2 separate regions of the Homo sapiens genome follow, and region 2 is linked to region 1. The links come from fine-mapping of genetic effects on gene expression. Tissue or cell type: neutrophils. Region 1 holds a variant in brackets; the other region holds the start of a gene. All regions are shown on one strand. Distances are between the middles of the regions.

What was found. PIP is the estimated chance that this variant, and not a neighbour inherited with it, causes the effect.
Region 2: it holds the start of ZNF333, and the variant in region 1 is fine-mapped to the expression of ZNF333 in neutrophils (BLUEPRINT, PIP 0.95).

The regions. Positions count from the first base shown.
Region 1 is chr19:14,777,293-14,782,904 of GRCh38, reverse strand. It overlaps ADGRE2 (adhesion G protein-coupled receptor E2), which reads left to right and starts at 4,345. Exons shown (of 21, transcript NM_013447.4): 1 at 4,345-4,648. The variant C/T (reference allele first, on the strand shown) is at 3,241.
Region 2 is chr19:14,687,496-14,693,107 of GRCh38, reverse strand. ZNF333 (zinc finger protein 333) reads right to left here and starts at 3,060. Exons shown (of 12, transcript NM_032433.4): 1 at 2,958-3,060. RefSeq lists silencers at 2,717-3,086, 3,417-3,466.

The DNA of each region.
Region 1 (5,612 bases):
AAACAAAACAAAACAGCCATCATTTTAGGAAACATTCATATGTGGAAACTACTATGTGTATTGTTCACAATTTGCGGGAATAAAGAACTTTGCTTTGCAAAAAATATGTAAATTAAAAAATAAAAGGGAAGGAAGGCATACCCATGAGCCTCCCTCATCACCAAGAACTGAGACATGACCTTGTTCCCATGCTCCCATCTTTATCTTGCTGATTACCACCACTCTGAATATTCTTTGCACCTTATTCCTTTGCTCAGTTACTTATTTTTTTATTTTATTTATTTTTGAGACAGGGTCTTGCTCTGTCACCCAGGCTGGAGTGCAGTGGTATGATCACAGCTCACTGCCACCTCGAATTCCTGGGCTCAAGCCATCCTCCCACTTCAGCCTCCTGAGTAGCTGGGACCACAGGTGCGAGTCACCACACCTGGCGAATTTTTTATTTTTATTGTAGAGATGGAGGTCTCATTATGTTGCCCAGGATGGTCTCGAACTCCTGGGCTCAAGCAATCCTCCCGTCTCAGCATCCCCAAGTAGCTGGGATTACGAGCATGAACCACTGCGCCCGGCCCAGCCTTGTTTATTTTTATTTATTTATTTATATTTATGTATTTTTATTTTATTTTATTTTATTTAGACGGAGTCTCACTCTTGTCTCCCAGGCTGGAGTGCAGTGGCGCAATCTCAGCTCACTGCAGCCTCTGCCTCCCGGGTTCAAGTGATTCTCTTGCTTCAGCCTCCCAAGTAGCTGGGATTACAGGCACCCACCACCATACCCGGCTAATTTTTGTACTTTTAGTACAGACGGGGTTTCACCATGTTGGCCAGGCTGGTCTTGAACTCCTGACCTCAGGTGATCTGCCCACCTCGGCCTCTCTGGGATTACAGGCATGAGCCACCGCGCCCGGCAGCCTTGATTATTTTTTAAAGTCTTCTTGCATATGTTTGTATCCTGAAACCAAATCTTTTATTATCTTTGTATCTCAGCTTTTTTGCAAGGTGGCTTTTTCCTATGGGGCTTTGGAGACTTTTTCAAGATTCTAGTATGGAATCTGTCATGCTGCAATTTAAGATTTTTTTCTCCTGACTTCACTCAGTTTTTAAATTTAAAAAAGGAGTGTGGCTAGGCATGGTGGCATGCACCTGTAACCCCAGCATTTTGGGAGGCTGAGGTGGGCGGATCACTTGAGGGTCAGGAGATCGAGACCAGCCTGGCCAACATGGTGAAACCCCGTCTCTACTAAAAAATTAGCTGGGCGTGGTGGTGTGTGCCTGTAATCCCAGCTTCTAGGGAGGCTGAGGCAGGAGAATTGCTTGAAGCTGGGAGGCGGAGGTTGCAGTGAGCCGAGATCTCGCCACTGCACTCTAGCCTGGGTAACAGGGCAAGATTCCGTCCCCCTCACACACACACAAAAAAAGTGAAAAGTTAGCCAGGCATGGCAACATATGCCTGTAGTCCCAGCTACTTGGTAGGCTGAGGCAGGAGGATCACATAAGCCCAGGACGTGCAGGTTGCCTGAAGCCATAATTGTGCCACCGCCACTGTGCTCCAGCGTGGGCAACAGAGACCCTGTCTCTAAAATAATAACAATAAATTATACTAATATAATTAATAATACCATTATTATTGTTGGTTGGATAATCTTGGGTTGCTTCTTTTTTTTTTTTTTTTTTTTTTGAAACGGAGTCTGGCTCTATCGCCCAGGCTGGAGTGCAATAACGCGATCTCAGCTCACTGCAACCTACATCTCCTGGGCTCAAGCAATTCTCCTGCTTCAGCCTCCCAAGCAGCTGGGATTACAGGTAATCTTGGGTTACTTCTTAGCTGAGCAACCTGGGGCCAGGGGCCCCAAACCCCCAGGTTCCAGTTCCCCTTTTGACAAATGAGGACCATGTTCGCACCCCCCATCATTGCAGAGGTTGTCCAGAAGCTGCAAAATAGGTCAGCAGGACTGAGACTTCTGGACAAAGAGAAGGCGGAGAAACATAGGCAGACACCCCGGCAGGGACCAGATCAGCGAGGCTGAAGGAGGCTTCCTTTAGCTGGGCGGCAGCGGAGTGGAGTGGCAGGAGTACTACTAATTTGCATGGTTTACCATATAGGGCCCCACTCAGCACAGGCTCTGTGCTGGTGCTCTGCAGAGAAAAAGACAAAAGTCACTCAGGGGGCTGACAGCCTAATGCGGCTCGAGGGCAGATGGTTGCTAGGGAAGAAGGGAGATGGTGAGAAGTATTGGAGAGACTCAAGAAAGCCGCCAGGAATGGTGACTCACGCCTGTAATCCCAACGCTTTGGGAGGCTGAGGCGCGTGGATCATTTGAGGACAGGAGTTCGAGACCAGCCTGGCCAACATGGTGAAACCCTGTCTCCACTAAAAATACAAAAATTATCTAGATGCGATGGCAGGTGCCTATAATCCCAGCTACTCGGGAGGCTGAGGCAGGAGAATTGCTTGAACCCGGGAGGCAGAGATTGCAGTGAGACGAGATAGCACCACTGCACTCCGGCTTGGGTGACAGAGCAAGACTTCGTCTCAGAAAAAAGTAATAATAAATAATAATAATAATAATAAAATAAAAATTTAAAAAGAATGTTTCAGGCCGGGCATTGTGGTTCACGCCTGTAATCCCAGCACTTTTGGGATGCCAAGGCAGGCAGATCACTTGAGGCCAGAAGTTCGAGACCAGCCTGACCAACATAGCGAAACTCCATCTCTGCTAGAAATACAAAAATTAGCCAGGCGTGGTGGCTTGCACCTGTAATTCCAGATACTTGGGAGGCTGAGGCAGGAGAATCTCTTGAACCCAGGAGGCAGAGGTTGCTGTGAGCTGAGATCACATCACCACACTCCAGCCTGGGTGACAGAGCGAGACTCTGTCTCAAAATAAATAAATGAATGAACAAATAAATAAAATAAAATAAAAATACAAAAATTAGCCAGGTGTGGTGGTGGGCACCTGTAGTCCGAGCTACTCTGGAGGCTGAGGCAGGAGAATCGCTTGAACCCGGGAGGCGGAGGTTGCAGTGAGTCGAGATGGCGCCACTGTACTCCAACCTGGGCAACACCAGAGTCTGTCTCTAAAATACAGTAAAATAAAATTAAATTAAGAAGAGTCGATGATCACCATGAAGGGGTGTAGGGACAATCCCTGGCATCAGGAAGTGCCACTACCTCCCTGAGATTCTGCAGACGCCAGCTGTCTGACCTGCCCGTCTGATCTGCAGAGAAGGGACGTTGAG[C/T]CCTGGGGTTCTAGCTGGAGTTTCTGGCTTTCTGAGAAAAAAAAGGCAAAATCCCTCCAGACCTGGTCTGGCCCTCTCTCCTTCCAGCTTCTGCTGGTGTTCACTCCCCTCCCCCACAGCCCAGGCCACCCCCACAGGAGCCCGGGACAGGAAGGGGTAAATTCTAGGACTGTGGATGTTTGATTATTCCCAGGACAATAGTTCTCTGACTTCAGTCATTAGTGACTTTTTTCTCCATCGCTGCAATCTCCCCCTTTGAACAACTGAACTATATTTTCCTTAGCATTCATCACTTCTGCATCTTGAATTTACTCATGTAACAAGGAGACTTGATTTCGGCATCCTCACTGAAAAACCCTCCTCATTGCCCCAGATAGTAGGGAAACCTAAAAATAAATATAAATATGAGGAACACAAAACCAAGTCCTTGAATTCTGGCTGGATACAGACACCTGCTAAGCCTCAGGGTCACGGAGGCGCTAAAGACATGTTAGTGCCCAGTGGAGACTTTCCCCTGGGCTCATCGCAGGGACTCCAGGGCTGGGCTGCCGGCCTGTGGATCTGAGTCTCAGCTGGGTGAGTCACTTGTGCCTCAGTTTCCTCCTCTGTCAAATGGGAATGACAACATCATTGCAGATGTTTTAAGGAGTAAATGAGTTAATATAGATTAAAAAAAAAAAGCACTTAGGACCAGACCTGGTACAAATTAAGTGCTCCATAAATAATAGCATTTTCTTGGCAGGATAGCGAGATCTCGTCTCTACAAAAAAAAAAAACACTTAAGGAGAAAACTAGCCAGACGTGATGGTGCACAGCTGTAGTCCCAGCTCCTCAGGAGGCTGAGGCAGGAGGATCCCTTGAGCCCTGAAGTTTGAGGCTGCAGTGAGCTGTGATGGTGACCCTGCACTCCAGCCTGGGTGACAGAGTAAGATCTCTTAAAAATATATATAGCGTTTTAAAAAATGATTACGTACCTCAAGAGACAAGCTAATCATATGATTTATCCAGAAAGGAAAGAACCCTCCTATCACATGATTCTCTGTTGATTAACGAAGTGCCCAGGGGCCTCTGAAATATAAGTTTCCCACAGGAGGAAACTGGCTTAGAAAGACCAGAAAGATCCGGGGGGTCTGCTCTGTGCGGTGAAGCTTCTCTTCTTGGCACCTGCCTGGCATCGGAAGAGGGCCCCTTCTCCCTCCCTGGGCTTTTATGTGGACACTGTAATGCCTCAGTTTTCTTTCTTTCTTTTTGTTTTTGACACAGGGTCTCACTCTATCACCCAAGCTGGAGTGCAGTGGCACCATCTTAGCTCACCGCAGCCTCAAACTCCCCAGCTCGGGTGATTCTTCCTGCCTCAGCCTCCTGAGTAGTAGCAGCTGGGACCACAGACGTCTGCCACCAAGCCCAGGTAATTTTTTTTCTTTTTGAAGAAACAGAGCTTTGCCATGTTGCCCAGGCTGGTCTCAAACTCCTGAGCTCAAGCGATCCTCCTGCCTCGGCCTCCCAGAGTGCTGGGATCACAGGTGTGGAGAAATAGGAACGCTTTTACACTGTTGGTGGGAATGTAAATTAGTTCAACCATTGTGGAAGATAGTGTGGTGATTTCTCAAGGATCCAGAACTAGAAATACCATTTGACTCAGCGATCCCATTGCTGGGTATATACCCAAAGGATTATAAATCATGCTACTATAAAGACATATGCACATGTATGTTTATTGCGGTACTATTCACAATAGCAAAGACCTGGAATCAACCCAAATGTCCATCAATGATAGACTGGATTAAGAAAGTGTGGCACATATACACCAGGGAATACTATGCAGCTATAAAAAAGGATGAGTTCATGTCCTTTGCAGGGACACAGATGAAGCTGAAAACCATCATTCTCAGCAAACTAACACAGAAACAGAAAACCAAACACCACATGTTCTCACTCATAGGTGGGAACTGAGCAATGAGAACACCTGGACACAGGGCGGGAAACATCACACACTGGGGCCTGTCGGGGGGTGGGGGCCTGGGGGAGGGATTGCATTAGGAGAAATACCTAATGTAAATGACGAGTTGATAGGTGCAGCAAGCCAACATGGCACATGTATGCCTATGTATCAAACCTGCTCGTTGTGCACATGTACCCTAGAACTTAAAGTCTAAAAAATTTAATTAATTAATTAATTAATTAATTTAAAAAGAAAGAAAGAAACCGAGCTTCGCCATGTTGCCCAGGCTGGTCTCAAACTCCTGAGCTCAAGCGATCCTCCTGCCTCGCCCTCCCAGAGTGCTGGGATCACAGGCGTGAGCCTCTGTACCTGGCCTCAGTTTCCTCATCTGGAAAACAGCAGGGGAAGATACTGCCAGCTGGGACGCAGG
Region 2 (5,612 bases), 90 kb after region 1:
GTCTCACTCTGTTGCTCAGGCTGGAGGCCAAGGTGGGTGGATCACTTGAGGTCAGGAATTTGAAACCAGCCTGGCCAATATGGTGAAACCCCATCTCTACTAAAAATACAAAAATTAGCTGGGCATGGTGGCAAACGCCTGTAATCCCAGCTGCTCGGGAGGGAGGCTGAGGCAGTAGAGTTGCTTGAACCCAGGAGGCGGAGGTTACAGTGAACTGAGATCGTGCCACGGCATTGCAGCCTGGGCAACAGACTAAGACTCCATGTCAAGAAAAAAAAAAAAAGAATAAGGTCCAGGTCAAGCACGGTGGCTCATGCCTATAATCCCAGCACTTTGGAAGGCCGAGGCAGGTGGATCACTTGGGGTCAGGAGTTCAAGACCAGCCTGGCCAACATGGTGAAACCCCATCTCTACTTAAAATACAAAAATTAGCTGGGCATGGTGGCACACACCTGTAATCCCAGCTACTCAGGAAGCTGAGGCCAGAAAATCGCTGGAACCCGGGAGGTGGAGGCTGCAGTGAGCCCAGATCCCACACTGCACTCCAGCCTGGGTGACAGAGCAAGACTCTGTCTGAAAGAAAAAAAATAAATAAAAAGAAGATCCAATGCTAACCATGATCTTCAGGGACCTGCCTCCCTCTCTCACCTGGCTCATCCATTCAGTACTTTATTTTCTCTACTTTAGCTTTCTCTACCTGTTCTCAGCTCCTGGAACACAGCAGGCTTCGTACTGCCTGAAAGACTGTACATCTGGAATGTTCTCTCAAGTTTCCTCCGCTACCCCACTCCACAGCTAGACCCCTTGTTTAGCTACGTACAACTCATCTTGAAGGTTCAAACATTTGTTCCTTTTCAGATGTGTTTCCTGACATCCTCCCCAAGTTCTCCTGTTCCACGTTCTCATATTGCCTTTGGCACTATTAATTTACCAATATTATTAGCTAGAATAAAGCCTCCACAGGGGCAAGCACTGTAACTATTTCAGTCCCACTGTTTCCCCATGTACAGGGTCCAATTCATTGAGGGCACCCCAGTGAAAATATGCCAAATAATCAACACTCCTCAAGAATGACTCAGTATAGCTAGCCTAAGAAGGAATATGCCCACGCACACACAAAACACAGTATGAGGCCAGGTATGGTTGCTCACGCCTATAATCCCAGCACTTTGGGAGGCCGAGGCGGGTGGATCACCTGAGGTCAGGAGTTCCAGACCAGCCTGGCCAACATGGTGAAACCCCGTCTCTACTAAAAATACAAAAATTAGCCGGGCATGGTGGCGGGCGCCTATAATCACAGCTGCCTGGGAAGCTGAGGCACGAGAATTGCTTGAACCCAGGAGGCAGAAGCTGCAGTGAGCCGAGATTGTGCCACTGCACTCCAGCCTGGGTGATGAAGTGAGACTCTGTCTCAAAAAAAAAAAAAAAAAAGACAATATGACACCATAAAAATCAAATATAAGAATAACTTAAAGTGCCTGTCTTTCATAAGACATAATCACACAAGTTTCAGGTACCTTTAAGAAACAATATTAATTCTTTTTAAAAAGGCAAGGCAAGCGCATATATTCTTTGTGGAAACAAACACCTCACTCGTAAAACTGAAATCTGATGCATGATTTTCCTCTGGAGTTAATTTTTTCCTGATTTCTCAGTAGACACGAGCTTTAACCCCATTATTAAAAAAGACATCCCACTTATGGCCAACTCAATTTGAATTTCCAGTATTAACAAAGTTTATATCGTCTTTTCCCTGAAGTTCCATTAGTTTTGAAGCTCTGTGATTCACATGCTTGGGGGAAGGACTGGAGCCAACTTGAAAAGATCTGAATAACAGTCTTAGGTTTTCTTGATAATAATATTTGTGAAATAACTGAGAAACGGCTTTTCTTAACCTAACAGTGAGAAACTTGATGCCCACAGCAGAAGTAAAAGTCGTCTCAAACATAGAAAATAAAGAAAAACAAAAACAAAAAAAATTAAGAACTCCTCCTTTTGTTGTTGTTTTTGTTTTTGAGATGGAGTCTTGCTCTGTCACCCAGGCTGGAGTGCAGTGGCACAATCTCAGCTCACTGCAACCTCCGCCTCTGGGGTTCAAGCGATTCTCCTGCCTCAGCCTCCCGAGTAGTTGGGATTACAGGCGCCCACCACTACGCTCGGCTAATTTGTGTATTTTTAGTAAAGACAGGGTTTCACCATGTTGGCCAGGCTGGTCTCAAACTCCTGACCTCAGGTGATCCACCCGCCTCGGCCTCCCAAAGTGCTGGGATTATAGGAGTGAGCCACCAAGCCTGGCCAAAAGCTTTCTTATGAGAAAGAAAAAAAAGAAGAAAGAAAAAGTTATGGAAAAGGAAGAGATGCAAAGCCAAGCTAACAGATATTAAGCTAAAAGACTTCAAATTGTCAGTCTCCAAAAGAAATCTCTCGTCATCTAATTCATTCCTTAATGGAGGATGCATTCAATTTTTTAAGTAAATTTGGCCAATCAATTAAACCAGTTTGCACATGTGGACCCAGACCTCACTTTCCAGTTGCAAAGCTAGATAATATTAAGTATCATATCAAATAAAACGTGAATTACTAATTCGCAGTTATCTTGCATACTGTAGGCAAGGTAGGGCCGTCTTTATGCACTTTCCCTAAAAATTGGGAAGGACAGGTGAGAGCTGGGGCCGGTGTCACCACATTTCTGAGCTGTGGGACCTGGACTGTTTGGGATTTCCCTTTTGACAGGATGACAGCCCTGTCTGCCCGGACGGGGGGTACCTGAGAGCGAGAGACCGGGCGGCGGGCGCCCAGATGCGAGGCCCTGACTGTGTGGGCCTCACGCCGGCCACCGGCTGATCGCAGGGAGGAAACCCCTCACACAGGCGGAGCTGTTCTAGGCCCTCCAGTCCCTCCCCGCGCCAGCCGAGCCCTCCCCGCCCTCCCCGCCCTCCCGAGGGGCCGGGCCACACCTGCAAGCCAGCCGGAGACACTCCCACCGTGCCGTGCCGCACCGCGCCGCGCCGCGCAGCACAGCTCAGCCGCCGTCGGCCGCCGCCGCGCGCACTTCCGCTTCCGGTCTCGGGGCCGCCGGGAACGGAAGTGGCTGTGGCTCAGGCTGTTGTGGCCAGGGTAGCCTTAGGCGGCGGCAGAGAAACTAACGTCTTCTTTAGCCTCCAAGGAGAAATTCTAGTATTCTTACCCGGGGGATGAGGTTAGGCTCTGGAGTGGGGTCCCACAGAGCATGGAGGGTGGTGCTGGGGGCGGAGCCTATGTCCGAGAGACAGGGATAGGGGTGGGGCTTAGGTCCCGGGGCAAAAGTGGGGCGGGGCCTGTGCGCGGGGGCGGGGTGGAGTGTGGCTTGCCCTCCGATGGCTGATGGGCGGGGCTTGCACCCCAATGGCGGAGTGGGCGGGGCCTTGGTTTGCAGGGTGGTAGTAGGGGCGGGTCGTGCGCCTCAGGGGCAAAAATGGGGCGGGGCTTGTGCTTGGGGTGGGAATGGGAGCTGAACTTGCATTCGGAAGGCGGGATGAGGGGACCTGGGCTTCAAGGGTTGAGAGGGGCACACCCGACCCCTCCCCGGGTCTCTTTAGGGATGCTCAATATTTAACTTACCCTTTTCTCCTTCCTTTTCCCCAACCCCTTCCACCTTTATCCATGGGCTTAATCCAATCCCCTACAAAAATATACCCATACTTAAGATTGTTTTTGTATATTTTTATACGGCTGACCCTTAGGCAACGGGAGTTGGGGCGCCACCCTGTGCAGTGGAAAATTCACTTCTTTTGACTCCCCCAAAACCTACCTACTAATAGACTACTGTTAACCAGAAGCTTTACCAATAACATAAAGTTAGTTAACACATATTTTGTATATTATATGCCATATTCTTAAAATAAACTAAGCTCAGAGAAAAGAAAGTGTTATTAAGAAAATCATGAAGAAGAGAAAATATATTTACTCTTCGTTACGTGGAAGTGATCGTAAAGATCATAAATAAACGTCTTCATCGTCAGCTTCACCCTGAGTAGGCTGAGGAAAGGGAGGGGTTTGTCTTGCTGTCCCAAGGAGGACAAAGGTAGAAAAAAATCTACCTATAAGGGGATAGCCACAGTTCAAACCCTTGGTGTTCACGGGTCAACTAACTGTCTTTATTCTAAAAATAGGACGATGTATTTTTGTTTCTTCTACAGCTTGCCCTTCTCACTAAAAATAAGATGTGTGAATCTAAGACATAGATCTGACTTTTTAAAAACTATTTATTATGTAGTATACATAGTACATACCTATGGGAAAAGTTCAAACGGGAGGCTCACTCTATTCCTAAATTTTCCTCCCCTGAAACAACCACTGTCACTAGTTCCCTGGTATTCTTTATATATCAAGCACATGTGCAGTCATGCACCACATAACAAGGTTTTGGTCAACCACGAAACACATACACAGTTGTGATCCCATAAGGTTATAATGGAGCTGAAAATTTCTTATCACCTAGTGATGTTGTAACTGTCACAATGTTGCAGTGCAACACATTACTCACATTTAAAAAGGTTTTAAAAATATGAAAAGACCGGGCGCGGTGGCTTACGCCTGCAATCCCAAGACTTTGGAGGCCGACGCTGGTGGATCACTTGAGGTCAGGAGTTCGAGACCAGCCTGGCCAACATGATGAAACCCCCAGTCTCTACTAGTAATACAAAAATTAGCTGGGCATGGTGGCATGCGCCTGTAATCCCAGCTATTCGGGAGGCTGAGGCAGGAGAATTGCTTGAACCCAGGAGGTGGAGGGTGCAGTGACCCAAGGTCTTGCCATTGCACTCCAGCCTGTGCAACAAGAGCAAAACTCCATCTCAAAAAAAAAAATGAAAAATAGCTTATAGAATAAGGATATAAAGAAAGAAAATACCTTTATGCAGTACAATTTATCTGTGTTTTAAGCTAAATGTTCTTACAAAGAAGTTGGGCCGGGCGGGGTGGCTCATGCATGTAATCACAGCACACTTTGGGAGGCCAAGGCAGGAGGATCGCTTGAGTCCAGGAGTTCCAGATGACCAGCCTGGGCCACATAGCAAGACACTGTCTCTAAAAATAAAAATAAAAGAAATGTATCATTTAAAAAACAAAATGTACAAAGGTTCAGTTATTTCAGATAAATAAGTTTTGGAGATCTAATGTACAGCATGGTGACTGTAGTTAACAGGAACATATTATGTACTTGAAATGTGCTAAGAGGGTAGGTCTTACGTGTTCTTACCACCAAAAAAAAAAAAGCAAATATGTGAGGCGATGGATGTGCTAATTGCTTCATTATTTCACTGTATGTATATCAAAACATCAAGTTGTACACCTTAAATATATACAATTTTTATTTGTCAACTATAACTCAACAAAGCCAGGAGTAAGAAAGGAGTCAGTGGCCAAGCATGGTGGCTCACGCCTGTAATCCCAGCACTTTGGGAGGCTGAGGCAGGTGGATCACCTGAGGTCAGGAGTTCAAGACCAGCCTGGCCAACATGGTGAAACCCCGTCTCTATTAAAAATACAAAAATTAGCCGGGCATGATGGCAGGCGCCTGTAATCCCAGCTACCCGGGAGGGTGATGCAGGAGAATCACTTGAACCTGGGAA